Linked DNA regions of Homo sapiens. The protein of the gene in region 1 purifies or fractionates together with the protein of each later gene. This does not show direct contact. Each region holds a gene or a part of one and is shown in the gene's direction. Other genes may lie near its edges.

Region 1 (4,085 bases):
TGAGTATTTTTCTCCATGATGCCGGGTTACCTCCCACCACCATTTGGTCAGTTGAGAAGTCTTGGAAGAAATAAGGGATGATGAGCCTGACAGGGAGGTTTTGGGAGAAGAAAGAGGGAAGACATGGCCACTGTTGCTCCTGATGGAAGGTTATTTGTGGGTAGAGAGAGCAGGTTTGTTCTTTGTGGCTGCAGGGGAGATGGGGTAGACAGATCAGAAAGTTTGAGGGAGGCACATTTAGATCAGTAAAAGAAAGAACTTTCTAAAGTCACTTGAGAATGAAAAGCCATTTAGTTAGTGCAAGAAATGAAATGTCTCCACCACAGAGCCTCTGTTAGGAATAGCATTTTAGTTTTGAATCCTCAGAGGAGATACTGCTCCAAAATCCCTTATAGTCATGAGAGTATTAGAGTCTAGAGCTTGGCATTTAGAGAATGAGGCCTTAACAGTTACCAGAACAGAGGTATTTTCTAGATCTCAGCTAACATCCCCTCTGCAACACATGGAAGCATCTGGATGGTTTCCGTACAGGACCTAAAGAAGTGCTGTCTCTTCTGGGTAGAATGGAGAAAAATGTGGCCACCCTCAAGTTTCCATGGGTTACATTCCAAGACTATTGTTCTTTGTTTTAGAATGTGGATCTCATTGTCCCAAACTGGCAAGAAGTTCCTGCCTATTAACTTCTCCCATTGCAGAGGGAGTAGGAAGGAGGGGGAGGAGGCGACAGAGGAGGAAGAGGAGAGATTGGGTTTAGGGAAAAAAATAATTTTAGAATATCAGGGATTGAAGGGACCTTGAAGATGATCTGGTTTGGCATTGCCCAAACTTAACTAGTTAGCCCATCACCTTAGTTGAATCACTTTGCAAAAACTTTAATAAATGTATTACAAAAGCAGATTTTATATCACTACCATAAATGGAAAAAACTCTGTGTACCTTTGTCATAAATAGAAGGAAACTGTAAAAACAAACACATAAAAAAAACAAAACAACTTGATTCAGTTCCAGCTGGATATAACTTCCTGTGGAAGCTCTGAGCTGGAGGCTTATTCTCTTTTTGTTAAAAAAGGAGATAGATGAGTATAAAGGAGGTGTTTAAGACATCTTGGCACCAAACTGAGACTTTCTTCTCATATAAGCAGAATTGAAAGAATATTAAATGGAACCAACCTCCTCATGTTTTTCACTATCATTTAACTTGTACCATCTAACATTATCTTGCACATATCAGGAATTCAGAAGGAAATCTCCATAAGGAAGTCTCACCCTCACTGAACTCTCAATCTCTCCTCCCCATAGGGTTCCCAGCACCATGAGGGCCTGGATCTTCTTTCTCCTTTGCCTGGCCGGGAGGGCCTTGGCAGCCCCTGTAAGTACCTAAATATCATGTCTTCTTGTTTTCATTCCTACCGCTAGCACCAGGGGTTCTGAGCCTGCCAGCCCTGGATGCTGAAAGGGAACAGGGACTTCCCCATTTCAAGTTAGTGGTCTTTTTTTTTTCTTAAGTTAGGAAGCTCGGGATAAAAACTGGGATGAGGACCATTGGGTGGAGGTATCAGAGAAGAGAGAGTTCCATGTAATGTTAGATAAACTTCTTAGTAGTCAGAGCCTCCCAGCAATGAACTAGGATTGCTTTAGAAGGAAATGACCTCTTTGTCATATGAGGAATTCAAGCAGGCAGGAGACAGGATGTGGGGGATTTCTGGTAGGGGTGGTATTAGAAGAGATTCAAGCTATAGAGAGAGGAATGTGTTGGCTTCTGAAACAGTGAGGGTTGTTTGGTTGTAAGCAACAGTTCAATCTGACTAAATTGGGGAAGGAGGGGAAGATACAGAGGTAGATTATAATATTAAAGGCCTTGGGGAGGACTGGAAAAGGGCAGCTCTAGGCTTTGGGAGTTAAGAACTAATGGACAGTCTCTGAGATATTGCTGTCTGAATGAATCAACTCCAGCAATTTTCACATCTTGAGAGAATGTGCCAAGAAGGTTTTTATAAATTCAAAAAATGAGAGCCAATCTGGCTGAGCTTGGGTCCTGAGCCAGCTTCTTGGCCAGGTGAGAGTGGGGCCCCTTGATTGACAGACAGTTCCTCGAAGCATTGCATGCAGGGACAGGAGTAGTTATCCACAGCTCATCTGGAAGCCTTCACAAGGAGAGGAGGAAGAAACAGGGCAGGCAAAAAGTGCAATTTCTTTCAACCTGTGATCCCCTCATCCTCTGTTTACTAAGAAGTGGGAGTGATGGCAGACCCTGGCAATCTTGATCAGGCTGGTAGATGGAGGCAAAAGTTTCTCAAAGTTGGCATTAAGTTTTGAAGCAGCTCCAGCCAGCTAAGGGCCTCAAAGTTGTGTGTTTTCTTGCTTCCTCCTACTCCAAGTTGAAATGGCAAGAAAAATTGCCTAATAATACTACTAATAATATCACACTGTGAGGAAGATGATGACATCTGTTAAAATTCACAGTGTCATCCCCTCTGGATGTCAATTTTCCTATCTGTAAAGTGAAAGAATTGGTCTGGATCAGTGATTTTCAGACTTTATAAGAATTCAAAGCAGCAGAAATACTTTTCCAAGCTAAATCTTAGGTAGACACCTAGGATATAAAATATATAAAATGGGAGCTGCTTGAGTGTTCCACGGTGCTCACATGACTGGCTTCTTCTTTGTTCTGTCCCTCACCATGGCAGTCCATGAGGCACAACTTTGGGGATCTCCAGTAAGCTGCTCTCCAAGCTCCCCTAGCCTGTATCCGAGGCCACAGGCACTTTGGAGGTGAAGCTGGCCTTATTCCTGACCCCTCTGAACGCTACTTTCTCTTTCCAACAGCAGCAAGAAGCCCTGCCTGATGAGACAGAGGTGGTGGAAGAAACTGTGGCAGAGGTGACTGAGGTATGTGGGCAGTGACCGCAGCCCCTTAGCCCCTCTCTACCTGTATCTGTGCCCTGAGAAATTAGGGCGGATGCTGTGGGTCTCAATGCTAGAGTGGGGCATTCGTCTCCCTGTACACACATAGCATAGATGCAAACCCTGAGTATATCCCACATCCTGACACACTCCTGAATGCTTCCCAAACCTTCAACGGAACCCTACGTTTGGGGACCAGGACCTTAAAATTTTTGTTTTTTAAGCTATGCAACAGTTGTTCTTCCATGATTACCCACAGTTTTTGCAAACGTAAAACAGAGGAGGCCGGGTGCGGTGGCTCATGCCTGTAATCCCTGTAATCCTTTGGGAGGCCGAGGCAGGCAATTCACGAGGTCAGGAGTTCAAGACCAGTGTGGCCAACATGGTGAAACCCTGTCTCTACTAAAAATACAAAAAATTAGCTGGGCGTGGTGGCGGGTGCCTGTAATCCCAGCTACTCGGGAGGCTGAGGTAGGAGAATCGCTTGAACCCGGGAGGTGGAGGTTGCAGTTAGCCAAGATCTCGCCACTGTACTCTACCCTGGGCGACAGCATGAGACTCCATCTCAAAAACAAACAAACAAACAAGCACACACACACACACACACACACACACACACACACACACACAGAGGAAAGGGGAGATGCTTGGGTGTGGCTGGCAGGGGTGGAGGCTTGACACCCTCTTGTGAACATAGATCTCAGTCAATTTAGAAAGTTTACTTTGCCAAGGTTAAGAATGTGCCTGTGACACAGCCTCAGGAAGTTCTGAGACATGTGTCCAAGGTGGTCGGGAGTACAGTTTGCTTTCATACATTTTAGGGAGACACGAGACTTCAATCAACATGTCTAAATTGTGCATTGGTTGAGTTCGCTAAGGCAAGACAACTTGAGAAGTGAGGGCTTCCAGGTTAGAAGTAGATAAGAGACAAATGGTTGCATTCCTTTGAGTCCTTGATCAGCCTTCCCCTGAATACACAATTTAATCTGGCTCAGTGAATCTGCATTTTTACATAAACAATAGGGGAGAGGAAGCAATCAGATAAGCGTTTGTCTCAGGTGAGCCTCAGAGGGATGACTGCATAGAATAGGAGGCAGGTTTGTCCTATGCAGTTCTCAGCTTGACTTTTCCCCTTAGCTTAGTGATTTTGGGGTCCAAGGTATATTTTCCTTTCACACTCT
Region 2 (4,085 bases), on another chromosome or scaffold:
CAGCACTGTGGCCTTGACAGCATTCACTTGTATTTTTATGAATAATGATGACCACTGTCACTTGTTTGGGCACGTGCTGACCATCTGTATAAAACTCTGGACTAACCCCCTTTAGATAAAATATTTGTGATCCTCGAAGCATTCTGAAAAATGCTACTATTTTTAATTTCCAAAGAGGAAAACAGGTCTCAGAGGGTTAAGTAACTTGTCCGAAGTGGCTGAGCTGGGGTTAAACTCCTCTGACCCTGCAGGCCATGCTCTTGTCACTGCTCAAAGAACATCTTCCTTCCCTCCCCCACACCCACATTCCCTTATTCCTTCACACCGTCTGTCACTCATTCATTCACCCATTCATTCATTCCTCAAATGCTGTGAGCACAGGCTGGGTATGAAGCTGGGGCTGCATGCTCAGCTACCCAGACACACGAAGCAGGGTGGCCACCCTCAGTGAGCCCACAGTCTCACGGGAGGCAGAGCAGCTGGGATGCTCGCAGAGGGGCCCTGAGGTACAGTGAGTCTGGAGCACCCGCCTGGTGGGGAGGCTCAGGGTGGCTTCATCACAGGGTGACATCCTCATCACATACCCCTTTGATGTGTCTCACAAAAGCCTGGAATGACCAGTTCCTGTGCCTCCGGGTCTTCGTGAATCTGAAAATGCCGACGGGCCCTGTTCAGGCACCAGCATTGAGGCTGTGCCCTGTGAAATTGCAGTGGTCCCTGGGCTGCCAGGGGTCATCACAGGCCATCCTCTGGAGGGACTGTGCAGCACCCTGAAGACAAGAGAGGGGTCCACAGTGGGATACCACAGAGGGTCTGTGCGGCACGTGGGAGGTGACAGGATGCAGCCACCTGGCCTGGGTTCTCTTCCTGCCTTAGAGGAAAAACGGAGCAAATCCTTATGAAAATTCCAAGAATCTCTGGCGATATCTCCAAAGGGCCACAGTTAAGCTGGCTGGGAAAGGTTTAGACGAGGGGAGAGCAGGAGCTGGGGGCTGGCAGGGTCTGGGATATAGCTGCTGTGTGCCTGAAAAAGCCGGCAACTGTGGTTGGTCCAGGAGCTGTGATAATAGCCCGTGAAGTCGTGGCTAGGTGGGAGGGAACATCAGGCTCCAGTGTGACCGTGAGATCACAGCTTTGAGCTTTCGAGGAGATGGGATCACTCTGGCAAAGGATAAGGGAACAAAAGATGGAGGCACTCATAAGGCCTTGCGCAAGTTCAGATGGTCTGCGAGAGGCAATGAGGTCCCCACCTTAAAATGCAGACACCTGGCCCGGGGATGGGAAAGTCAACAAGTGGCTTTTTTTGCAGGAGGACTTTTTGTAAATAGCCCAGAAGAGCCCAGCCTCAGCAGGATGGTCACTGAGGAGGAAATCCAGTTCTATGTGCAGCAGTTCAAGAAGTCTGGTTTCAGGTAAAGAGAGCACAGGGCCCAGACACAGATGAGAGATGATCGACAGATAGGGATCTTCAGCCCTCAGGGTGGAGGGTGAGGCCCAGTTCTCCTCCACCACAGCCCTCGTTAGTGCCAGGCCAGCCTCTGCTTCAATGCCTCCAGTGTCGGGAGGCTCACTACTTTATGGTGCTCAGCCTGCTCTAGTTTGGGATAGCTCAGCTTGTTCTTCCTTATGCTTATGGGGCCCCCATAGGGCAGAGGGTTTTCACTACTTTTTAGTCATGGCTCCTCAGAGAATCAGATGGCAACTCTGGGCTCTTTCTTCAGAAAAACATAAAAATCCACATAAACTCAAAAAGTGCATACATTTTGGTGCATTTGCCCTACTTCCTGATGTCATATTAGGAGGGGGCATCTTTGCTCCACCTCCCAATGTCCCTCTCAAGTGGGCTCCCTGGGGCAGGCGAGTGGCCTCTGGATGGTGAGGCTGCTAAACCAAGTTCCCCACCATCAGCAACCTCCCCAGCCTCCAAGGTGACACGATGACATTCCCTGGAGGGTCCTGTAGGGCCGGCTTCTTTGTGTCCCAAAAGCCAACCTAGAGGCTGCCAGTTCACTCAGTGGAGTCCTGTGTCCTTGCACAAGGCCTTGCTGCTAGAGCTTGGCAACTGCGCCCGACAGCAAGGCGTGGGTCCTGGGCTCTATTCTCTTGCCCCTGCAGGAGGCTTTGCTCTTCCCAGGACGACTGGCTGTGCAGAGCAGGTTTCTGCTGGTGTCTGTAGCAGAGCCGTCTACTTACTGCCTCCCTCTTTTTACTTTCTGATCTCTCCCCAGAGGTCCTCTAAACTGGTACCGAAACATGGAAAGGAACTGGAAGTGGGCTTGCAAAAGCTTGGGACGGAAGGTGAGTGCCAGGTTCAGTGTAGTCTCATCCACACCCCAGGACCCGCCCGCGGGGCTTCCCATTGGCCTGAGCTGATATGACCTGGGCCAGAGCTGGTTGTGGACAGATCTGCTGGCCACCTCCTTTCCCTTTGGGGTTTGGGAAGTGACTCCCTTCAGGGGTTTCCCTAGGATCTTTCTTGCTGGTGCTTCTCTTGGGATGGTAGAGGGTGACCTTGGGGATGGAGCTGGGGTGTGTCCAGGGAACTGCAGCATCCATCCGGAATCCCCAGGTCCCCTGGTGGTACCCCAAGGCAGGGCTGCAGATGGCCTGGGGCACCTCCCAGAAGTGACATGGATACTGGAGCCCCCAGCCCAGAGGAGCGTTAGGTGCTCTCAGAGATGTGACTTTAGCCTTCGGTTGTGTCACCTTGCACAAGTCAATCTCTGAGTCTCAGTTTCCTCATTTGTCAAGCAGAAGATGAGTTTCCAATCTCTGGGTCTGCAGAAGGAGTAATGGAGGTTCCCAGTTTACATTCAAAATGTTTAAAAATCTAAGGGAAATCTGTTCCCCAGTGTGACTGCACAGGTAGCTAGGCCTTCATCAGCTCACTCAGTAGCCATGGTTACCTTGTTGGTTCACTCTGTAAGTGAACACACTGCTACATGCCAGACTTCCTGCCAGACCCTGGGATACCATGGTGTGTAAACAGACCAGGTCTTGACCTCCCAAAATTAAGTCTTGAGGCACTAGAGTATATAACATCGTGGTTAAGAGCAGGCTAGGAAGCACATGGGCTGAGTCTAATCCCTGTGTGACCCTGGGAAAGGTACTTAACCCCTCTGATCCACTGTGGCTTCTTCTGCAATATGCAAGTGGCAAGAACAGTGCCTCCCTCACAGAGCTGTGTAAGGATGAAATGGTTGAAGGCATGTGACCTGTTACAAGCAGTACTGGGAACCTATTAGCTCCATTAGTGTTCCTTGTCATTATCATCATATGACCGATGAAAATGACCAAACTGCAGTTGGACAGACAAAATCTCTCAAAGCGTGGAGGAAAATATTGACAAAGGCGCTGGGAAGGTGAATCCCAATGGTGCTAAGGTCAGAAACCCTCCTCTTCTGCAGTTTATTTTTTGAGACAGTCTTGCTCAGTTGCCCAGGCTAGAATGCAATGGCACGATCTCGGTTCACTGCAACCTCTGCCCCCTGGGTTCAAGCAATTCTCCTGCCTCAGCCTCCCAAGCAGCTGGAATTACAGGAGTGCGCCACCACACCCAGCGAATTTTTTGTGTTTTAGTAGAGATGGGGCTTCACCATGTTGCGCAGGGTGGTCTCAAACTCCTGAGCTCAGGCGATCCACCCACCTCGGCCTCCCAAAGTGCTGGGATGACAGGCGTGAGCCACTGCACCCAGCCTCTCTTCTGCAGTTTCCAGCTGGATCTTCCTCTCTCCTCCCCCACCTCCTCCCATCCCATCCTCTCCCCCCCCCGCCCCCCGCCCAGTTCACATTTTAGCTTGGAACTTTCTAGAGTTTACAAACCTCATAGAAGCCTCAGGATTCGTTTTAGCCACAAAATCATTTTTGACCTTCTCCTGGCTCCTGGTTGTGGGAGGAGGGAGGGGTGTGGAGAGATGCCCATCACTCTGGGTGTAAATGAAAATAGTGCACGTTCCTCAACCAGGGATGGGTCAAAGCTGCTTGGAAATTAGGGTAATGGTGGAGCGAGAACAAAGGAAAAAACACAGAGGCTTTCCTGGCCTTCCTGTGCATGCCTCCCTGTGTTCAACTCATTTGCCAGCAAT
Region 3 (4,085 bases), on another chromosome or scaffold:
GGCTCCTCGGGATTCATTTCTAGTAATTTAAGATACATTGGCTTGCAACAGGATTCCTTTGTGGGTTTCAATATGAATTATAATAACATATTTATTAGATGGTTATTTTGTTTATACTTTTATAGGTTGCTGCTAAAACCTTGCCTTTTTATAAGGACTACTTCAATGTTCCTTATCCTCTACCTAAAATTGATCTCATTGCTATTGCAGACTTTGCAGCTGGTAAAGTAAATTTCATTTTATTGCTGAATTGTAATAACTTTTTAAAATTTTGTGACTTTTGATGCAAGAGTATATATATATATATATATATCAATAAATGTTTATATTTATTTTGTGAAGGTGCCATGGAGAACTGGGGCCTTGTTACTTATAGGTATGTTAATGATGTGTTACCCTGCCTTATCTTTTCAAATCACTGATTTCAAAAGGGCTTCCCTCCTAATCACAGTTGAGTAGCTTCTGCTTTACGATATGGTGTAAATTTTTCTACCTTCCCCCACTTCCGTGCACATTTCAAGAATGCAGATGGACACCCCTCCCTTTGGTGCTACTGTCTGAGGGTGTAAGATTTTAAAGTGAGCATCTGGCGGTAGTAGCATTTTTAGATATATTCTTGGCTAAGTTTCTCATTGCAGTAGTTTCATAGCTATTTATCCAGCTTGGAGAACCTTCCCTAATTTCATATCTTCTAGCCAAGTTTTTACATGTCTGTCACCACAACATAAACATGTGAGTTGAATAACTTTTAAAAGCAGAGTCTGTCTGTAAACAAGTTTTTGCCTTCTACTTTCAATTGCCTTTTTAGATGAGCTAAGTGTTGGACAGCCGGCTCAGTGCTGTTTTTGGGACTATGGAATGCATCTTCCTCCACCACTCCCCTCATTTAATGGAAGGACTTTCTTCTCTCTCCATCTAGCACAGTAATCGCTAATCCCTTAGACAATGTTTTCCCAAAATTTCAGGCAGCTATTCTATCAACAAACTGATAATTAAACTTGTGTCACATCTTTGATATTCTGTTGTATTAATTCTGTTGGGGTAGTCTTTAATCTTCGTGAAACTTTTTCTTTCCATATTAGGAAATATTTTCCTAATATCTCTAAAGCCTAACTTGTCCATCTGACTTACTGTCTGAATCTTCCCAACTTATGCATGCCCACTTTTATTGTTTAAATTTGTTTCTTTTTTTTTTTTTTAAACACAGGGAGACTGCATTGCTTATTGATCCAAAAAATTCCTGTTCTTCATCCCGCCAGTGGGTTGCTCTGGTTGTGGGACATGAACTCGCCCATCAATGGTTTGGAAATCTTGTTACTATGGTATTTAATATTTTTAAGTGCTCAAATATATTTATCTTCATCCTACTCCACATTATTTTGGCTACATAGTATTTCAAGTTTGGCTGCAACACTGTGCCAAAAAATAATTGAGTGATAGAAAAGTATTATTTTAAAAGGTCCACTTTGAAAAGGCTTATCAGAATCTCTGCATTGAACAAGGGCATATGGACAGTCTTTATTCAACAGACACTTCCTAAACTGTTCTAAAATTTGTCTGCAAGTGGGAAAAGTCAAGATACTAATTTGGGTGAGAGAAAAACATTCCTCTTAGGTGTAGATGAATGAATCATGCAGTGAGATTCCAGGCTAACTGTAGTTTCTTGAATCTTATTTGTTAATCTGATTCACAGCTGAAAAGTAACCTGATGAATAACAAACTGATCTTTAATTAGAGAGAAATGTTTTTAGGAGTCAGTTTTTTCATTGCCTAAAATGTTAAGTTGAAATTTAATGAAATAAAAGTAAACAAACTGCAGAGTGACTGCAGAATAAAGCTGTATTAAAATTCCAGCTGTTCTGTTGAAATCCTTATAATGTTTGCAGTAATGATCTCTGTCCTTCAGTCCTGATTTTTCACTCTTACTCTAAGTAAATACTATTTATGAATGCCAACTGTGTTAGAGCTTGGGAGCACAGGATTTAATAAGTGAACTAGATGTACCTCTGCAATTAAATAACTGGATATTCTGGAGCCAGCTAGATTCCCTGACATTTTAGGCTGCCAAAGAGCAGAACCTGATTTGAATGTAGATTGAGTCCATACGTCATATAAATAAGAATGTAAGACATTTATCAACTATTACGTGTCTCAGAGAGTTTCTACAGAAAGTCAACCCTTGAAAATAAATCTTTTCCTTTTATTTTGGATGTTTAAAATTTTACAGGTGAAAAAAATTCTTTGAAATATAATTTCAGGCCGGGCACGGTGGCTCACGCCGGTAATCCCAGCACTTTGGGAGGCTGAGGCAGGTGGATCACTTGAGGTCACGTGTTTGAGACCACCCTGACCAATGTTGCGAAACCCCATCTCCACTAAAAAAAATAGAAAATTAGCTGGGCGTGGTGGTGTGCGCCTGTAATCCTAGCTACTCTGGAGGTTGAGGCAGAAGAATCACTTGAACCTGGGAGGCAGAGGTTGCAGTGAGCCGAGATCACGCCACTGCACTCCAGCCTGGGCAACAAGAGCGAAACTCCATCTCAAAAAAAAAAAAAGAAATATAATTTCATGTGGAATTATGTGTTGGTGCCTGTATTCAAATATGTGAAGAAATGGCCTTTTCTTCTAATGCAGCAAGTTTGCTACTTTGTACCAAATAATTTTTTTGCTTGGTTTTGAGATAACTTTATGATTTTATTTTGAAACAAGCAATAAATTTTAGTAGGGGAAATGTGTACATTCTTATTAAACAACTTTTTACTGGTTTTATGTAACTATTCTAGTTATTAGAACTGAAATTCCAAGGGCTTAGGGATAGGTTGGAAAATAAGTTTCATTTTATGCTAGTTTATTTTAGGAAGCTACTAGGCAAATAGCCACTTATCACTTAATATCAAAATAATTTTTTTTTTAAGACAGAGTCTCACTCTGTCACTTAAACTGGAGTGCAATGGCACAATCATGGTTCATTACAGTCTTTACCTCTGGGCTCAAGCAATCCTCCTGTCTCTGCCTCCTGAGTAGCTGCAATTACAGGTGTGTGGCACCATGCCCAGCTAATTTTTGCACTTTTTGTAGAGACAAGGTTTCACTGTATTGCCTTTTGTAGAGACAGGGTTTCACTTTGTTGCCTAAACTGGTCTCAAACTCCTGGGCTCAAGCAATCCTCCCACCTCAGCCTCCCAAAGTGCTGGGATTACAGGCATGAGCTACCACACCTGGCCTTTTCTGGGGGGACTGGTTGGGGATGGAGAATGGGATCTCACTTTGTCACCCAAGCCGGAGTGCAGTGGCACAATCATGGGTCAGTGCAGCTTCATCTTCCTGGGCTTATGTAATCCTCTTGCCTCAGCCTCCCAAGTAGCTGGGACCACAGGTGTGTGTCACCATGACCAGCTAATTTTTTTTTACTTTTTAATTTTTTTAGAGATGGAGTCTCACTATGTTGCCCAGGCTTATCTCAAACTCCTGGGCTCAAGTGATCTTCCTGCCTTGACCTCCCAGAGTATTGGCATTACAGGAGCAAGCCATTGTGCCTGGCCTGCTTTCTTTTACTAATAGGCTTAATCAACTTTAATAAAATTTAGATTAAGATCTTTCAAATTTTTTTAAAATTGATTTTATCTGTCACTCATATTCTTTGTCCATTCCATTTACTATGCATTCTTATTTAACAGGTGATAATTTTATATTCCATAAGTGCTTAAACACCATTCATTACTGAACTGCATTTTTGTTTAATTTCACATAATTTTTATATAAGCAGTACTCTTTCTCAGTTTCTCTTGAACATTCAACTCATTAGTGAGTGGTTTTCCCCTGTCATTTCCATTTTTCTTTATTTGGCTCTGATAGTTTTCTGTTTTTGTTTTTCAGAGATAATCCTTTACTATACTAAATTCTACATGATTATATTTTCCACCTCTATTTGCCTATATTTATCTGTTGTCTTTTCCTTTTCCATATATGGGCTTTTTTTTTCCCTCTTCTTCCTTTTCTACCTTTGGTATTTAAAAAGTTACTTAGGACTGAATGCACTGGCTTACGCGTGTAATCCCAGCACTTTGGCAGGCTGAGGCGGGAGG
Region 4 (4,085 bases), about 16 Mb from region 1:
GCAGCAGTGGAAACATTCAGCAAAGGAATGTTGGAGCCACATCCACAAGAGACTCACTGAAGATTCGCCAAACGCCTACGGAAAGTGGCAGGGAATTCATTGACAGTAATTGTTTCCTGCTTGATCAGATTGAAGAGCTTCTGGGATTCTGTAACAATAAATAGGACCGGGGGCTGGAGTATGGCCAGCAAGGACTCTTCAGGGGTTATTCAGGGACTGTCTAACCTGTGAATCCTAGGCAGCAAACAGAAACCAGGTATTCAGAAATCTGGAGGATTTGGTCAGGCCCAGCTAGGACTAGGGAGGCATGGGCCTCTGCTGGCTGTGGTCCCTTCTCCAGCCTTCACTTCTCTTGTCCCTAGATCCTTACATGGATTCATTAATGCTCATTGTCCCTCCTGGGCCCACTCACTTTCACCTGTTGAACAAAAAACTGGCCAAGAGGTGACAGTCATATCACCGCAGAAGAGACAGGGCAGAGAAATGAAGGGGCAGAATGGACTCCCACCCAAAAGCCTGACTCTGAATATTTGAGAATTGTTCAAGTTCCTGCAGAGGAATCATGATGGGGACAGTAGGTGTAGTTTTTACTGCAATATTGGTGTCTTCTTAACAAATACGCTGCACATCAAGTGATGTCTGTGGATGGCATTCTTAAAGTAACAGGGAAATTGATGTTAAAGAAATACTTCATCCTTTGGGTGATACCTGAAGTTCTCTGAGCTTGGAGGTCTTGTGAAAGCCCTCAGTATTGTTTGTTTTATTTGCTTTCCTCTGACTTGTGATTCAGTCAGATGCATGCCTGCCTCTGGCTCAGGAAGATCAACCCTCTCCTGACTGACCACGCCTCTCCTGACTGACCACGTAGCACAGCAGCTTCCTTTCCCTAGGGGCTCCTAATGAAGCTTTCACAATCACCTGGCCTGAGCACAGTTTGGGTCAGGACTTGGTATACTTGAAAAAAACATGCAAAACCAAAATCCTGTGGTTCTGGAAAAGGCTTCTTAGCAGAACCCCCAGACATTTACACTCTGCTTTTTCACAGGGTCCCTGAGGATTCTTTGGATCTGGGTAGTTTGGGGAGCAGTATTTTCAACAAGTTCATTTCGTGCTCCTTCTACACCCTGCCTGGATGCTAGGCCCCATCTAGAATGTGAACAACAGAACAAGGCAGAACACTTGTCCTCAAGGTTCTGTTGAGTGTTAGATGCAGAGAAGAGACACCCCCCACCTCCCCGCATCACTTACAGGAATTCTGTTTGGAACCCAACATCAAATAAGGACCGTATCCACTGTCAGAGGATGGGAAGCAGCATGTCATCTGGGACATTGGAGAAAGGCTCCTGGGGGAAGTGGGACTTGAGCTGTGATCTAAGTAATGAACAACTGAGAGTTAAATGGGAGAGCATCCCCTATCAGGGTCCTGAGAGCAACCAGCCATGGTTTAAACCAGCTATAAAGCCTCGGGTTTATAGGATAGACAGTAACAATGGCTTGTCTTTGGGAGCCAAGCAGCTGGTCCAGGCATGCAGAGCATGTCTGTATGGAGAGCTGCCTGAGAGATGCTTTTGTTTACACTTATCAATTGCCCATGTCAAAGAAGGATATGTACATGAAGTTACATCAGTATGTAAGAGAGATTTTAACAATTTTTGCAGGGGAAGCTTTCATGGGGGCTGATGGGAATCTAGGTAAACAGAACCAAAGTCTAAACCCAAGATATCCCCAGTACCAAGACTGAAATGACTCTCTCCTCTATCTCTAGAAAGTTCCAGTGACCCAAGGAGGCAAACACGATGGGAGTCATTAAAGTGGGGTGGACGTGCTGATCATCTTCCTAATTCTGCTGCTTTTGTTTTCAGCCCCAACGTGTGTGCTGTGCAGAAGGTTATTGGCACTAATAGGAAGTACTTCACCAACTGCAAGCAGTGGTACCAAAGGAAAATCTGTGGCAAATCAACGTGAGTATCTGTAACCAGCCAGGAGACCAAGCTGTATGCACGCTGGCTGCAGTTCCCCAGGGCCTGGGCCAGCCTTCTAGAAGGTCAGGTTGCCTAAAAAGCCATGAAGATGCATGTGCGAACATGTCTGGGACCTGCGTGCTAGGGAGTGGCATTTTTAGGAAGCTGGCCAATTTTGTTTTGCATTTTTAAGGCTGCTGACAAGACTTGGAGACATTTTTCAGGGCTGGTTTGGGTTTGCAAGAAACATGAAACACTGCGTGTGTGTGTGTGTGTGTGTGTTTCTCAATCCTCATAAAATAATACAGATATGCAGTGGAGAAGCCACCAGCATGTGACTCTGGAAAAGAAAGCCCATTGGTGAATCTGTACTAAAGAATGCCATCCCTATCTTACAGTCCTAAGGTAAACACCCCAAAAAGACTTAGAGCACTAAACATATGCAGATTATGAGACAGCATAGCATATAATATTTGCACAGACTTCCTCATTCAAACCCTAGCTCTACCTGGGCCAGTCGATTCATCTTTAGAACCCTCCATTGCTTTACCTGAAAAGTTCGTATAACAAAAGGACCCACCTTATGGGGTTGTTACAAGGATTGAATGAAATAATGTACATAAGAGACTGAATATGGTGCCCAGCATATATCAGTGCTCAATAAATGCTAGCTACTATTATTATTATCACCCTAGATTTGCAAATCTAGACCACACAAGCAGAAGTAAGAGTGCCAACGGGGTGTGGACCAGTGTGGTTACAATAGGGCTTGTTGATGTCTGTTTCAGCAAGGAGGGAGGCAGCTTTTACCCCACTGCCCAGCTCCCTGGTGGAATCAGGTGCATGTTCTAACAATTCTGGGGAAACCTAATCTGTTTTGGCACTGTCAACAGATCTCAAAGCTGGCTGTCTCCTATAGCTAGGAAGATGTGTATGACAAATCTCCTGAGCCACTTGTGAAGGCCTGACCTTCCTCCTGTCTCCATACATAATGGGATGATTAAGAAACTCTAAGCCACTCTCTTAAGCACTTTTCAATGTTAGGGATTTTTAAGTTTATTGTTGTGACATTGCTTTTGAGCAGACATCTCCTCCAATTTAATAGCCAACTGAAAGAAGAGAAAATGCTCTTTCCTTAAACTGTATGTGGAAATAAATATTCCAATGTGTGACCCTGATTATGTTAGGCAATTAGCAATCCTAATATGAATTGAGGGAAGTTGGGATTCATGGCACAGCTGGGGAGATACCAGCAGTCCCTGGGAGCCTGTCCAGGGCAGGTCCATGGCAGCTTGCTCCATGCCTGATTGACAGCCCAGCCTGCAAGCTAAAAGTTGAGTGAGCTAGGAGGACACACTGCCAAGATTCAGCTAACAGACACCCAGCGATATTCTTGCTGCTATGAACAAAAGGAGACTATGCAAATTATACACCACCCATTCTTCCAGGATGCCTGACTTAAAAAATAAGAAAAAAGATGGGCCGGGCACAGTGGCTCACGCCTGTAATCCCAACACTTTGGGAGGCCGAGGTGGGCGGATCACAAGGTCAGGAGACAGAGACCATCCTGGCTAACATGGTGAAACCCCGTCTCTACTAAAAAAATACAAAAATATTAGCGGGCGTGGTGGCGGGCACCTGTAGTCCCAGCTACTCGGGAGGCTGAGGCAGGAGAATGGCGTGAACCTGGGAGGCGGAGCTTGCAGTGAGCCAAGATCGTGCCACTGCAGTCCAGCCTGGGTGACAGAGTGAGACACCGTCTCAAAAAAAAAAAAAAAAAAAGAAAAGAAAACCTTTAGTACTGATTGATTTTTTCCCATGTGTGTATATTATCTACTCAAATTAACAATTAATTACTTAATTAAACACAAAGCCAGGCCTCACCTAATTGCTTCTTGGAAGGTGACCAGAGTGCTAGTGCCAAGCAAACAACTCTTCTATATCTCAAGAGCCCTGGGCTTCAGAGGGCCATCTTTTTTGTTAATTCAAGTTTCTCTGAAAATGGAGACCCGTTTATGATGACAAGCTGGCTACAGGGTAGCATCTGCCACACTGTTTCGGGGGTGCCGCTGGGCTGAAGCATTTGCCCAGCTAGTTAACAATAGCTCGATAACATTCCCTATC
Region 5 (4,085 bases), on another chromosome or scaffold:
TAAAGGTTCAGATAGTAAATATTTTAGGCTTTGTGATTACATGGTCACTGTTGCAACTACTCAAGTCTGCTGTGATAGTGCAGGAGCAGCCAGAGACAGCATAAACAAGTGAGCATGGCTGTGTTTCTATAAAGCTTTATAGACACTGAAATTTGAATTTCACATAATTATTTTAAATAATAAGCCTACTTTTTTAGTATAATTATAGATTTACACAATAATTGAGCAGATAGTACAAAGAGTCCACATACTTCCCCTTCATCCCCAGCTTCTCCTATTGGTAACATCTTGCATTAGTGTGGTACATTGGTTACAATTGATGAGCCAGTATTGATACATTATTATTAACTAAGCCCATCATTTAAAGTTCACTCTGTTGTACATTCTATGGCAGGGATCCCCAGCCTTTTGGCACCAGGGACTGGTTTCATGAAAGACAATTTTTCCACAGGAGGTGGGGACAGGGAGGCACAGGAAATGTTTTCAGGATGATTCAAGTGCATTACATTTATTGTGCACTTTATTTGTATTGTTATTACACTGTAATATATAATGAAATAATTATATAACTCAACATAATACAGAATTAGTGGGAGCCCTGAGCTTGTTTTCCTGCAACTAGATGGTCTCATCTGGGGGTGATGGGAGACAGTGATTAGATCATCAGGCGTTAGATTCTCATAAGGAGCGTGCACTCTAGATCCCTCACATGTGCAGTTCACAGTAGGGTTCACACTCCTATGAGAATCTAATGCTGCTGCTGATCTGACAGGTCGTGGAGCTCAGGCGGTAATGCAAGTGATGGGGAGTGGCTGTAAATACAGATGAAGCTTCGCTCACTCACCCACCTGCTGCTCACCTCCTGCTGTGTGGCCTGGTTCCCAACAGGGTTGGGAACCACTGTTCTATGGGTTTTGACAAAGGTATAATGACATGTATCCATAATTACAGTATTATATAGAATAGTTTCACTGCCCTAAAAAAGCCCTATGCTCTACCTATTTTTTCCTCCTTCCTCTTCCCTACCTCTGGTCAGGTAACCACTGATCTTTTCACTGTCTCCATGGTTTTGCCTTTTGCAGAATGTCATATAGTTGGAATCATACAGTATGTAGCATTTTTGAATTGGCTTCTTTCACTTAGCAATATGCACTTAAGGTCCCTCCATGTCTTTTCATGGCTTGATAGCTCATTTCTTCTTAGCACTAAATAGTATTACAAAAATACTATTTACAGTGTTACAAAAAATAGTATGTATGTTCTATAGCCTATTAGTCTGCCTAGGCTGCCATAAGACAACACCACAGACTGCGTGGTTTAAACAATGGAAATTTATTTTCTCCCAGTTCTGGAGGTTAGAGTTCAAGATCAAGATGGCCGCACCTTCAGGTTCTGGTTAGGGCTCTCTTCCTGGCTTGCATGCACATGGCTGCCTTCTTCTTGTGTCCTCACATGGCACTGAGAGAGAGAATCTTCTTCTTCTTATAAGGCCACAGTCCTATCAGATTAGTGCCCCACTTTAATGACCTCATTTAACTTTAATTACCTCCTAAAGACTGTATCTCTCGATATAGTAATATTTGGGGTTAGGGCTTCAACATACGAATTTTGGAGGACACAGTTTAGGCCATAAATTCACAGTTTGCTTATCCACTTACCTATTGAAGCACATCTTGGTTGCTTCCAACTTTTGGCAATTATATATAAAACTGCTGAAAACATTTGTGTGCAGGTTTTTGTGTGGACATGCATTTTCCAATTGTTTGGGTAAATATCAAGGAGCACAATTGCTGGATTGTGTGGTAAGAACATGTTTTTTGTTTGTTTTGTAAGAAATTGCCAAACTGTCTTCCAAAGTGGCTATACCATTTTGCATTCCCGCTAGCAATGAATGAGCATTTTTGATGCTCCACATCCTTGCTAACATTTGGTGTTGCCAGTACTTTGGATTTTAGTCATTCTAATAGGTGTGTAGTGGTATGTTTTAATTTGCAGTTTCCTGATGACATATGATGTTGAGCATCTTTTCATATGCTTATTTGCCGTCTGTATGTTTTACCCTCCTCTCTCCTTCTCTCTTCTCTTTTACTCTTGCTTGAATTTGTGCAAAAGCTGCTTTATTCTGCTTTCTTCTTTCTTCCCTCCTCCTCCTCCTTTCTCCTTTCTCCTTTTTCCTTCTCTTTATTCTTCTGTCAGCTGTACTTAAGATATGTGTATCAAGATCAGAAGCTTTCGTCTGCCACTGTGGTTTCGTTTATGTCTTCAGTCTCTTCTGTGAAGGTTCTCTTGGCTTTCTAGCACTAAATCAAAATCTGGTGCTCCTGGATGACACAACTTCCCGTAATGCCCCGGTGAACGGTTGCTAATTTTATTCTCAAAACCTTTTCACCATAGGGCCTCTGTTGGTGGGATAGGTGTCTCCATTGTCCTTCACTGCTATTCTCCTTTCCTCCTCCCTAAAAATATCTAAGTTGAAATCTCATTTTGTCACAATATCCCATCCTCTACCTCTCCTGATTCCTGGATCACTCTCTTTCACTTTTCTTTTTTTCTTTTAGAGATGGGGTCTTGTTCTCTTGCCCAGGTTGGAGCTGGAGTATGCGGTGGAGCAATCACAGCTCACTGCATCTTCAGACCCCTGGGGTCAAAGGATCCTCCTGCCTCAGCCTCCCGAGTAGCTGGGACTACAGACACATGCCACCATGCCTGGCTTCTTTTTGGCTTTTTGAAAACATTTTGCCACTAGCTTACTGTTACTTTCTTCACCATTACTTCCATCATGATTCTTGGATGATTTCAGTATCCTTAGAGAAGATCCTTCAGATACACTGACCTGTCATTTTCTGGACCTCCTCTTTATCACTGATCTTACCTTTTACCCAGTCTCAGCCATTTGCTTTCCTGATCATAAGCCTAAGTCTTGTCACTACCAATAACATCTCACTTTCAAACATCCTGCTCTGACTGCCTTCGCCTGTTTTACCAGCTTACTTCCTTTAGTATTCCAGTTTCAATAGTTGTTCAGTCCTTCTGAGATTTTGCCATGTTTCCAGTGTCTCTCATTCTCTTCAGTTCATCACGTCCCTCTTACCCAGTTTAAATACCATGGACAGTCATTGTCACTATTTCCTTCCTTTCACCTTTCATATTCATGTCTGTCTCTTTTCTGGTAGGTTTCTCTTGGATAAACCTATTAGTTAAATTCAGTTTTGCCCACTTCATGCCTGTCCTAGTATAGCTGAATCAGCTGAAGAAAACACTTCAACTGTCCTGACTGGTCTCAATTTAAGTGTTGCCAGACCAATCATATTTCCCTGGTCCTCTCACTGTCCCATTCTGATGATTGCTTTATAAAGTTTCTTCTATCTTCAAACCTCCAACATCTCTCCCATCCTTTGAATCAGAAGAGAACTTCTACAGTCTCCCACTACCTCATTTACCCACCTATCAACATGTTTGCTTTCTCTTTTGTTGGTGAGAATGAGTGGCTTCTTGCTCCTAGCTAGAGCCAGTCCTTCCATATGTGCTTTAGATTCTTCCTGTTTTGTTCAAGAATATTGCTCAAGCTATTCTTCCTCCTGTTTCCTGCATCAGCATTTCCCCTCTCTACTAGATCATCTCTGTCAGTAAATGAACATGTTGTTGTTTCTCCTAGAAGTACTGTTTCTATATCTAGATAGTACTCTAGCTAGAGTTAAAAAAAAAAAAAACAAAACCAACAAACTCAAAACTCTCTTCAGATGTTACTTCACCTCTTGCTGTTACTGCATTTCTCTACTGTATGTTACAGCAGAATTCCTTTTAAAAAATGTCCACGTTCACTGACTCTAGTTTTTTATTTCTCCTTGTCTCTTGAACCCAGTCCAGTCAGGTGCCACCACTCCACTGAAACTCCTGTTTTTTTTTTTTTTTTTTTTTTGAGACAGAGTCTTGCTCTGTTGCCCAGGCTAGAGTGCAATGGCACGATCTTGGCTCACTGTAACCTCCACCTCCTGGATTCAAGCGATTCCCGCCTCAGCTTCCTGAGTAGCTGAGATTACAGGCGCCTGCCACCATGCCCGGCTACTTTTTGTATTTTTTTTTTT
Region 6 (4,085 bases), on another chromosome or scaffold:
TCTGTCCATCTCTCTATCCATGCAGCAATTCATATTATTAAATGTATTTCAGAATAAGTTGTAGAGATGAGCTCATTTCCTCCTAAATACTTCAGCATGTGTATCATTAGAGTGCAATATTTGCTTAGTTTTTTTCCTTTTGAGGTAAAATTTATGTAGAAGAAAATATACAAATCTTAAGTGTACATTGACTGAGTTTTGACAAATACATACACACATGTAACTCAAACCCAGTCAAGATATAGAACATGACCATCACCCCAGAAAGTCTTTTTCCTGACCTTTCCTAATTTATTCCTACCCTCATCTTCAGAGGCAACAAATACTCTAATTTTTTTCTTTCTGTCATACATACACATCTATTCTGCTTTGCTGAGAGTGTTTTCTTTTCCTTCAAGAATGTTGGAGCCAGGCATGATGGCTCATGCCTGTAATTTTAGCACTTTGGGAAGCTGAGGTGGCCAGATCAGTTGAGGCCAGGAGTTCGAGCCCAGCCTGGCCAACATGGTGAGACCCTGTCTCTACTAAAAATACAAAAATTAGCTGGGTGTGGTGGCGGGCACCTGTAGTCCCAGCTACTTGGGAGGCTGAGACACGAGAATCGCTTGAACATGGGAGGCGGAGGTTGCAGTGAGCCGAGATCGTGCTACTGCACTCCAGCCTAGGTGACAGAGCAAGACTCCGTCTCAAAAAAACAAAAACAAAAGAATGCTGGATTTTGTCAAATGTTTTTTTCTGCATCTATTACTATTATCACAGGATTTTTTTCTTTTTTAATCTGTTGGTGTGATACATTACATTAATTGATCTTTGAATGTTGAACTAGCCTTGCATACCTAGAATAAATCCCATTTGGTCATGACGTGTATGTTTAGCACTCAGTATCTCCAGGGGTTTAGTTCCAAGACCTGTGCAGATACCAAAGTCCACAACAGGGAGGGCATGGAAGCTCCCCACCACCTTACTTTGCTCTGTCCATCTCTTTATCTGTATCCTTTGTAATATCCTTTATGATAAACTGTTAAATATAAGTATTTCCCTGAGTTTTGTGAGTTATCCCAGCAAATTATCAAACCAAATAAAATCAGGTGCGAACCCTGATTTATAGCTGGTCAATCAGAAGCACAGATCACAGCCTGCGACTTGTGACTGACATCTGAAGTGAGGGGCAGTCTTATGGAACTGAGCCCTTACCATGTGGGATATGACATTATCTCTTTTTTTTTTTTTGAGACAGAGTCTCGCTCTGTCGCCAGGCTGGAGTGCGGTGGCGCAATTTTGGCTCACTGCAACCTCCGCCTCCCGGGTTCAAGTGATTCTCCTGCCTCAGCCTCCCGAGTAGCTGGGACTACAGGCGCCTGTCACCACACCAGGCTACTTTTTGTATTTTTAGTAGAGACGGAGTTTCACCATGTTGACCAGGATGGTCTTGATCTCTTGACCTTGTGATCCACCTGCCTTGGCCTCCCAAAGTGCTGGGATTACAGGCGTGAGCTACTGCGCCCGGCTCGATATGACACCCTTTCTAGGTAGATAGTGTCATTATTTAATTGAATTATAGTTAGTGTCTGTTGGAGAATTGTTTAGGGATTGGGGGAAAAACTTCACATATCTGGTTATCTAAGGGTTCTGTGTCGAATATGAGAGTAGAGAGAAAAACCTTTATTTTCCTTTGACAGTGTCTTATCATATTTATAGCTGTTTTCTGTTTTGTTATACTTGTTTCCTTTTTAAACAGTCTTCCCCTCCTCTTTTGCCCTCTCTGGTTTTAATTGATCATGTGATATGATTTAATTTTTTTCTCCTGTCTTAGCATACCAATTATGCTTCTTAAACAATTTATTTAAGTGGTTGTATTACAGTTTGTGCTGTTCACTTAAAACTAGTCCAAGTCCACGTCCAAATAACATTATAGGTCAGGTATAGTGGCTCACGCCTGTAATTCCAGCATTTTGGGGGACTGAGGCTGGCGGATCATTTAAGGTTAAGAGTACGAGACCTGCCTGGTCAACATGGTGAAACCCCATCTCTACTAGAAATACAAAAAATTTGCTGAGCATGGTAATGTGCGCCTGTAGTCTCAGCTACTCAGGAGGCTGAGGTATGAGAATCTCTTGAACTGGGAGGCAGTGAGCCGAGATTGTGCCACTTCACTCTAGCCTGGGCGACAGTGCGAAACTCTGTCTCAAAAAACACAAAAACAAAAATCCCACTATACTACTTCATGGAAAATGGAGGTAGTATATGTAATACTCTATCTTACAATACAGTATACAGATTCCTCCCTTCTGCCCATTGTAACATTGTTGTCATTAATTTCACTTACCTATAAGCTGTAATAATCCAATGCATTGCTGCTATTAGTATTTTAGACATTTTTCTATTAATTTAAGAATAAGGAAGAAAAGACTTAATTTACCTTCATCTCTTAATTCTCTAATGCTCCTGTGAATCTGAGTTTTTGGTTTAAATCATTTTCCTTCTTTCTGAAGAACTCCTTTATTTATTTGTTTTTTTTAATTTTTGAGATGGAGTCCTGCTGTGTTGCCCAGCCTGGAGTGCAGTGGCGCAGTCTCTGCTTACTGCAACCTCTGCCTCCTGGGTTCAAGCGATTCTCCTGCCTCAGCCTCCTAAGTAGCTGGGACTACAGATGCATGCCACCATGCCCAGCTAATTTTTGTATTTTTAGTAGAAATGGGGTTTCACTATGTTGACCAGAATGGTCTTGATCTCTTGACCTAGTAATCTGCCCGCCTCGGCCTCCCAAAGTGCTGGGATTACAGGTGTGACCCACCACACCCGGCCTATCTTAACCATTTTAAGTGTACACTTCATGTCATTAAGTACACTTACATTGTGCAACCATCACCACCATTCATCTCCTGACTTCACCATTATTCATCTCCTGAATTCTTCATCTTGCAAAACTGAACCACTTACCCGTTAAGCAATGACTACCCATTCCACCGTCTTCCCAGACCCCAGTAACCGTTATTCTACTTTTGATGTCTGTAAATTCGAATACTTGAAGTATAAGTGGAATTATACAGTATTTGCCATTTGTTATTGGTTTCTTTTACTTGGCATAATGTCCTCAAGGTGCATCCGTGTTGTAGGAAATGTCAGCATTTCAATAATTTTTCAAGCTAAATAGTATCCCATTGTATGTATATACTGCATTTTGTTTCTCCATTCATCTGTTGATGAATAGTTGGGCAGCTTCCACCTTTTGGCTGTTGTGAATAATGGTGTTATGAATGTGGATATTTTTCTTTGAAGTTCAGTCTGTGCTGTCAGATTTTTGGGTTACATACCCAGAAGCAGAATTACTGGATCATATAGTAATTCCATTATCAATTTTTTTGAGGAATTATCATACTACTTTCTATAGTGACTGCACCATTTTACATTCCTACCAACAGTGTACAAAGGTCACCATTTCTCCACATCCTCACCAACATTTATTTTCTCTTTTTTTGATAGTAGTTATCCTAATGGATATGAGGTGGTATCTTGTAGTTTTCATTTACATTTCTCTAATTAGTAATGTTGAACATCTTTTCATGGGCTTATTGACCATTTGTATATCTTAATTGGAGAAACATCTATTTAAGTCCTTTGTCCATCTTTTAATCAGGTTGTTTGTTTTTTGAGTTGTAAGAGTTTACATACAAACATACACACACACACACACACACACACACAATGTTAGCTGCTTATCAGATATATGATTTGCAAATATTTCCCATTTTGTGTGTTACCTTTTCTTCCTTTTTTTCCCTGCTAACTTTTATTTTAGGTTCATGGGGTACATGTGTGGGTTTGTTGTGTGGGTTAATTGTGTGTCACTGGGGTTTGATGTATAAATTATTTTGTCACCCAGGTAGAGAGCATAGTACCCGATAGATAGTTTTTTGATCCTCACCCTCCCCACACCCTCCACCCTCAAGTAGGCCTTGGTGTTTGTTGTTTCCTTCTTTGTGTCCATGTGTACTGGATAGAGTTTGAATACATGTCCCCACCAAGTCTCATATTTAATTGTAATCCCCATTGTTGGAGGTGGGGACTGGTGGGAGGCAGTTGGG
Region 7 (4,514 bases), on another chromosome or scaffold:
CCCCTGCCCCCTCCCCATTTCCGTCCTCCCCCCCACCCCCGCCCACGGCTGGTCTCCCTTCACCGGACCCAGCTCTCTGATGGATTCTCTTTGCGCAAATCTGTGCGTCATCGCCCCCCACCCCCGGAACCTCTAGCTGTCCAAGCCCCCAGCCCCAACCTCTCTGGCAGGAGATACGGTCGAAGGGGCTGGTGGCAGAGAGGGGCTATCTCTGACGTTGCAGGTCCCCCTCCCATCGCGTTCAAACCTTCCCTTTAAGCGGTGGAGAGAGCTGGAGTTGAGTCACCCCCCCCCCACCTGCGCAACCCCCTCCCCACCTGCTCTGGTCTCGCCCTCCAAACGTCCTTGGGGGAGGGGAGCGGCAGGAGGGAAAGCGACTGGGGGAGTGTGGGAAGAGATGGGCCGAAGGGGGCACAGCGGGGGGCCTTGACACAAGCGGCAGTCAGGGGACAGAAGGACAGACACACCTTTTTCTCCAGACACAGCACGGATCGTGAAACAGACACGACCCAGAGGCACACACATCCTCATTCTTTCCCTTTTCTCTTCCGACTCGGACCCTTCCCGATGGGATTACCAAAACCGCAAGATCCACCCATCTGCCCCTGTCAGGGGGCTGCCACCCGCACTGCCGATTCGCGGACAGCGCCCGCAGGCGTGCAGATCTGTCCCTCTGCACTCAGGTTCACGCCGTCCTTGGGCGCGTGGTCTCGGGGTGGGGAACCCGGCCCCCTGGTCGGCTCTTGAATCTTTATCCTTCCCCTCCCCAGTATTGAGCTCCCACTGGTGCCCAGTCAGACGCTGGGACTACCCTTTTTCTATTCCACTCAGCAACGCGGGCTCCATCCAGCAGCTCCAAGTTGCTCTGCAACCCACCCTCCCGCCTTCCAGCGCCTCTGCATCCACCCTTCCATTCATTCTCCCATTCATTCATTCATCCTTTTCTCCTCGTCCCTCCTTCATTCATTCATAGCCCCCCGCCCTGCCCGCTTCAGCATTTCATTCATTCATTCATTCATTCATTTCCCGGAGCTCCGCTAGCGCACACCCCTTCAGCCGAAGGCCCCAGCGCGCAGGCGCAGGCCGGGAGAGGCAGGCACCCTCCAATCGTCGGGCGTCCTTCCTCCTCCGGGCGGCCGCCCGCTTCCCCATGAATGAACATTGACGTCAATGGGGCGGGGCGCGCCCACGTGACCCCGCGCGCTCCCCTTTATAAGGCGGTGGAGGCGCGGGCGCTGTCCAGCGTGCTGAAGCCGGAGCGAGCTAGCCGCCCGGAGCCGCGCCGACCCAGCTGAGCCCAGCCCACGGGACGCCAGACCTCGACCGTCGCTCCTACCCCGGCCACCGCTCGGAGCCGAGGCGGACGCGTCCCGATCTTCCCCTGTCCCCACCCTGCCCCGACCCTCCTCTCCACCTCTCGCGTCGTGACACCAGCTGGTAAATACTCCGCTGTTCGTCCCTCAAACCCTCGGCAGCCAGCCGTGGGCGTGAGGGAGGGTTCTCTCTCCTCTCGATGGGGGTGTTGCAAACACAGCGGGGAGCCCCCTGGTAAGGGTCCCCGGTAAACGGGGGAGTCGCAGCTTTTTCTCTTGCTGCTGAAGTCGCCCACGCACCATCCGGGGAGTCCTACGGGGAGGGAGCAGAGATTTTTTTTTCCCCCATATTGCTGCTGCTTAGTACGTGGGCGATGGCAGTGAGATGGCTCAGGGAAGGGGCCGAGGAGGCCCTGGGTAAGCGAGGGCTTCGGGGGTTATTTTCCCATTTACACGGCTCCAGAGATCGGCACAACATCTTCCTCCTTTGCTCCTAAACGTTCCTCTTCTGGGTAAGGTTTGGGGGATCAGGGAAGCCCCGGGTTTCCTGCTGAAAGGTGGGGGAAGGGAACGTAGACCTAGAGAGGGGAATTCTTACAGAAATCCTCTTTTTTTGGTCCCTTCTATTTTTCAGTCTCCGGCAGCCTCTTGGTCATGAAAGCCCTCAGATTGTCGGCTTCCGCCCTCTTCTGCCTTCTGCTGATCAACGGGTTAGGGGCAGCACCCCCTGGTCGCCCTGAGGCGCAGCCTCCTCCTCTCAGCTCTGAGCATAAAGAGCCGGTAGCCGGGGACGCAGTGCCCGGGCCAAAGGATGGCAGCGCCCCAGAGGTCCGAGGCGCTCGGAATTCCGAGCCGCAGGACGAGGGAGAGCTTTTCCAGGGCGTGGATCCCCGGGCGCTGGCCGCGGTGCTGCTGCAGGCACTCGACCGTCCCGCCTCACCCCCGGCACCAAGCGGCTCCCAGCAGGGGCCGGAGGAAGAAGCAGCTGAAGCTCTGCTGACCGAGACCGTGCGCAGCCAGACCCACAGCCTCCCGGCGCCGGAGAGCCCGGAGCCCGCGGCTCCGCCTCGCCCTCAGACTCCGGAGAATGGGCCCGAGGCGAGCGATCCCTCCGAGGAGCTCGAGGCGCTAGCGTCCCTGCTCCAGGAACTGCGAGATTTCAGTCCAAGTAGCGCCAAGCGCCAGCAGGAGACGGCGGCAGCAGAGACGGAAACCCGCACGCACACGCTGACCCGAGTGAATCTGGAGAGCCCGGGGCCAGAGCGCGTATGGCGCGCTTCCTGGGGAGAGTTCCAGGCGCGTGTCCCGGAGCGCGCGCCCCTGCCGCCCCCGGCCCCCTCTCAATTCCAGGCGCGTATGCCCGACAGCGGGCCCCTTCCCGAAACCCACAAGTTCGGGGAAGGAGTGTCCTCCCCCAAAACACACCTAGGCGAGGCATTGGCACCCCTGTCCAAGGCGTACCAAGGCGTGGCCGCCCCGTTCCCCAAGGCGCGCCGGCCGGAGAGCGCACTCCTGGGCGGCTCCGAGGCGGGCGAGCGCCTTCTCCAGCAAGGGCTGGCGCAGGTGGAGGCCGGGCGGCGGCAGGCGGAGGCCACGCGGCAGGCCGCGGCGCAGGAAGAGCGGCTGGCCGACCTCGCCTCGGACCTGCTGCTCCAGTATTTGCTGCAGGGCGGGGCCCGGCAGCGCGGCCTCGGGGGTCGGGGGCTGCAGGAGGCGGCGGAGGAGCGAGAGAGTGCAAGGGAGGAGGAGGAGGCGGAGCAGGAGAGACGCGGCGGGGAGGAGAGGGTGGGGGAAGAGGATGAGGAGGCGGCCGAGGCGGAGGCAGAGGCGGAGGAGGCGGAGAGGGCGCGGCAGAACGCGCTCCTGTTCGCGGAGGAGGAGGACGGGGAAGCCGGCGCCGAGGACAAGCGCTCCCAGGAGGAGACGCCGGGCCACCGGCGGAAGGAGGCCGAGGGGACAGAGGAGGGCGGGGAGGAGGAGGACGACGAGGAGATGGATCCGCAGACGATCGACAGCCTCATTGAGCTGTCCACCAAACTCCACCTGCCAGCGGACGACGTGGTCAGCATCATCGAGGAGGTGGAGGAGAAGCGGAAGCGGAAGAAGAACGCCCCTCCCGAGCCCGTGCCGCCCCCCCGTGCCGCCCCCGCCCCCACCCACGTCCGCTCCCCGCAGCCCCCGCCCCCCGCCCCCGCTCCCGCACGAGACGAGCTGCCGGACTGGAACGAGGTGCTCCCGCCCTGGGATCGGGAGGAGGACGAGGTGTACCCGCCAGGGCCGTACCACCCTTTCCCCAACTACATCCGGCCGCGGACACTGCAGCCGCCCTCGGCCTTGCGCCGCCGCCACTACCACCACGCCTTGCCGCCTTCGCGCCACTATCCCGGCCGGGAGGCCCAGGCGCGGCGCGCGCAGGAGGAGGCGGAGGCGGAGGAGCGCCGGCTGCAGGAGCAGGAGGAGCTGGAGAATTACATCGAGCACGTGCTGCTCCGGCGCCCGTGACTGCCCTTCCCGGTCCCGCCCCCGCGCGCCCCCGCCGCGCGCGCGCGCCGGCGCCCCCCTCCGTGTTGCCCGCTCCCCCTCGGTGTTTGCATGCGCCCCGGCCCTGCCCCTTGGCCCTGCCCCTGTCCCCGGGCTGCGTCGGGACCTGCCAGACCCCCCTCCCGGGTCCTGAGCCCGAACTCCCAGAGCTCACCCGCGGGTGACCGGGGGCCAGCCCAGGAGGGCGGGTGGTTTGTGCGAGTTCCCTTGCCACGCGGGGCCCCGGCCCCATCAAGTCCCTCTGGGGACGTCCCCGTCGGAAACCGGAAAAAGCAGTTCCAGTTAATTGTGTGAAGTGTGTCTGTCTCCAGCCCTTCGGGCCTCCCACGAGCCCCTCCAGCCTCTCCAAGTCGCTGTGAATTGACCCCTTCTTTCCTTTCTCTGTTGTAAATACCCCTCACGGAGGAAATAGTTTTGCTAAGAAATAAAAGTGACTATTTTATTAGGACTTTGTTCTCGGTTATTCACCCGTCCCCTTGGGCCTGTGTGGTCCTTCCCAAGGGGCGGTGAGGGAAGCGCCAGCCACAGTCCCCGTCTCCTCCTGCTTCCTGCCCCCAAACTAAGGCAAGGGGTAAGTGGGGAAAGTCCTCAAACTGTTTTTAGAGGAGAAGAATGTGGCTCGCACCCATTAAGAAACCCGAAATTCCACTTCCAGCTTGG

What was found.
Region 2: the proteins of SPARC (region 1) and EPHX2 fractionate together in Homo sapiens (co-fractionation; one large-scale study listed by BioGRID). This does not show direct contact.
Region 3: the proteins of SPARC (region 1) and NPEPPS fractionate together in Homo sapiens (co-fractionation; one large-scale study listed by BioGRID). This does not show direct contact.
Region 4: the proteins of SPARC (region 1) and TGFBI purify together in Homo sapiens (affinity purification with mass spectrometry, with the first as the bait; one study listed by BioGRID). This does not show direct contact.
Region 5: the proteins of SPARC (region 1) and ATF6 fractionate together in Homo sapiens (co-fractionation; one large-scale study listed by BioGRID). This does not show direct contact.
Region 6: the proteins of SPARC (region 1) and VPS13A purify together in Homo sapiens (co-immunoprecipitation; one large-scale study listed by IntAct). This does not show direct contact.
Region 7: the proteins of SPARC (region 1) and VGF purify together in Homo sapiens (co-immunoprecipitation; one large-scale study listed by IntAct). This does not show direct contact.

What each region holds. Positions count from the first base shown.
Region 1 is NC_000005.10:151,673,416-151,677,500, reverse strand, and holds part of SPARC (SPARC isoform 1 precursor), read left to right. Parts: intron 1-453; exon of another isoform or gene 454-556; intron 557-1,299; 5' UTR 1,300-1,312; coding exon 1,313-1,369; intron 1,370-2,826; coding exon 2,827-2,889; intron 2,890-4,085.
Region 2 is NC_000008.11:27,539,245-27,543,329, forward strand, and holds part of EPHX2 (bifunctional epoxide hydrolase 2), read left to right. Parts: intron 1-1,309; coding exon 1,310-1,412; intron 1,413-2,228; coding exon 2,229-2,298; intron 2,299-4,085. UniProt on the Homo sapiens protein: Bifunctional enzyme. The C-terminal domain has epoxide hydrolase activity and acts on epoxides (alkene oxides, oxiranes) and arene oxides. Plays a role in xenobiotic metabolism by degrading potentially toxic epoxides.
Region 3 is NC_000017.11:47,586,023-47,590,107, forward strand, and holds part of NPEPPS (puromycin-sensitive aminopeptidase), read left to right. Parts: intron 1-125; coding exon 126-222; intron 223-342; coding exon 343-376; intron 377-1,207; coding exon 1,208-1,322; intron 1,323-4,085. UniProt on the Homo sapiens protein: Aminopeptidase with broad substrate specificity for several peptides. Involved in proteolytic events essential for cell growth and viability. May act as regulator of neuropeptide activity.
Region 4 is NC_000005.10:136,031,901-136,035,985, forward strand, and holds part of TGFBI (transforming growth factor-beta-induced protein ig-h3 precursor), read left to right. Parts: intron 1-1,862; coding exon 1,863-1,961; intron 1,962-4,085.
Region 5 is NC_000001.11:161,769,067-161,773,151, forward strand, and holds part of ATF6 (cyclic AMP-dependent transcription factor ATF-6 alpha), read left to right. Parts: exon of another isoform or gene 1-3,549; intron 3,550-4,085.
Region 6 is NC_000009.12:77,183,931-77,188,015, forward strand, and holds part of VPS13A (intermembrane lipid transfer protein VPS13A), read left to right. Parts: intron 1-4,085. UniProt on the Homo sapiens protein: Mediates the transfer of lipids between membranes at organelle contact sites. Binds phospholipids. Required for the formation or stabilization of ER-mitochondria contact sites which enable transfer of lipids between the ER and mitochondria.
Region 7 is NC_000007.14:101,162,297-101,166,810, reverse strand, and holds VGF (neurosecretory protein VGF precursor), read left to right. Parts: upstream 1-1,241; 5' UTR 1,242-1,437; exon of another isoform or gene 1,438-1,825; intron 1,826-1,947; 5' UTR 1,948-1,967; coding exon 1,968-3,815; 3' UTR 3,816-4,302; downstream 4,303-4,514.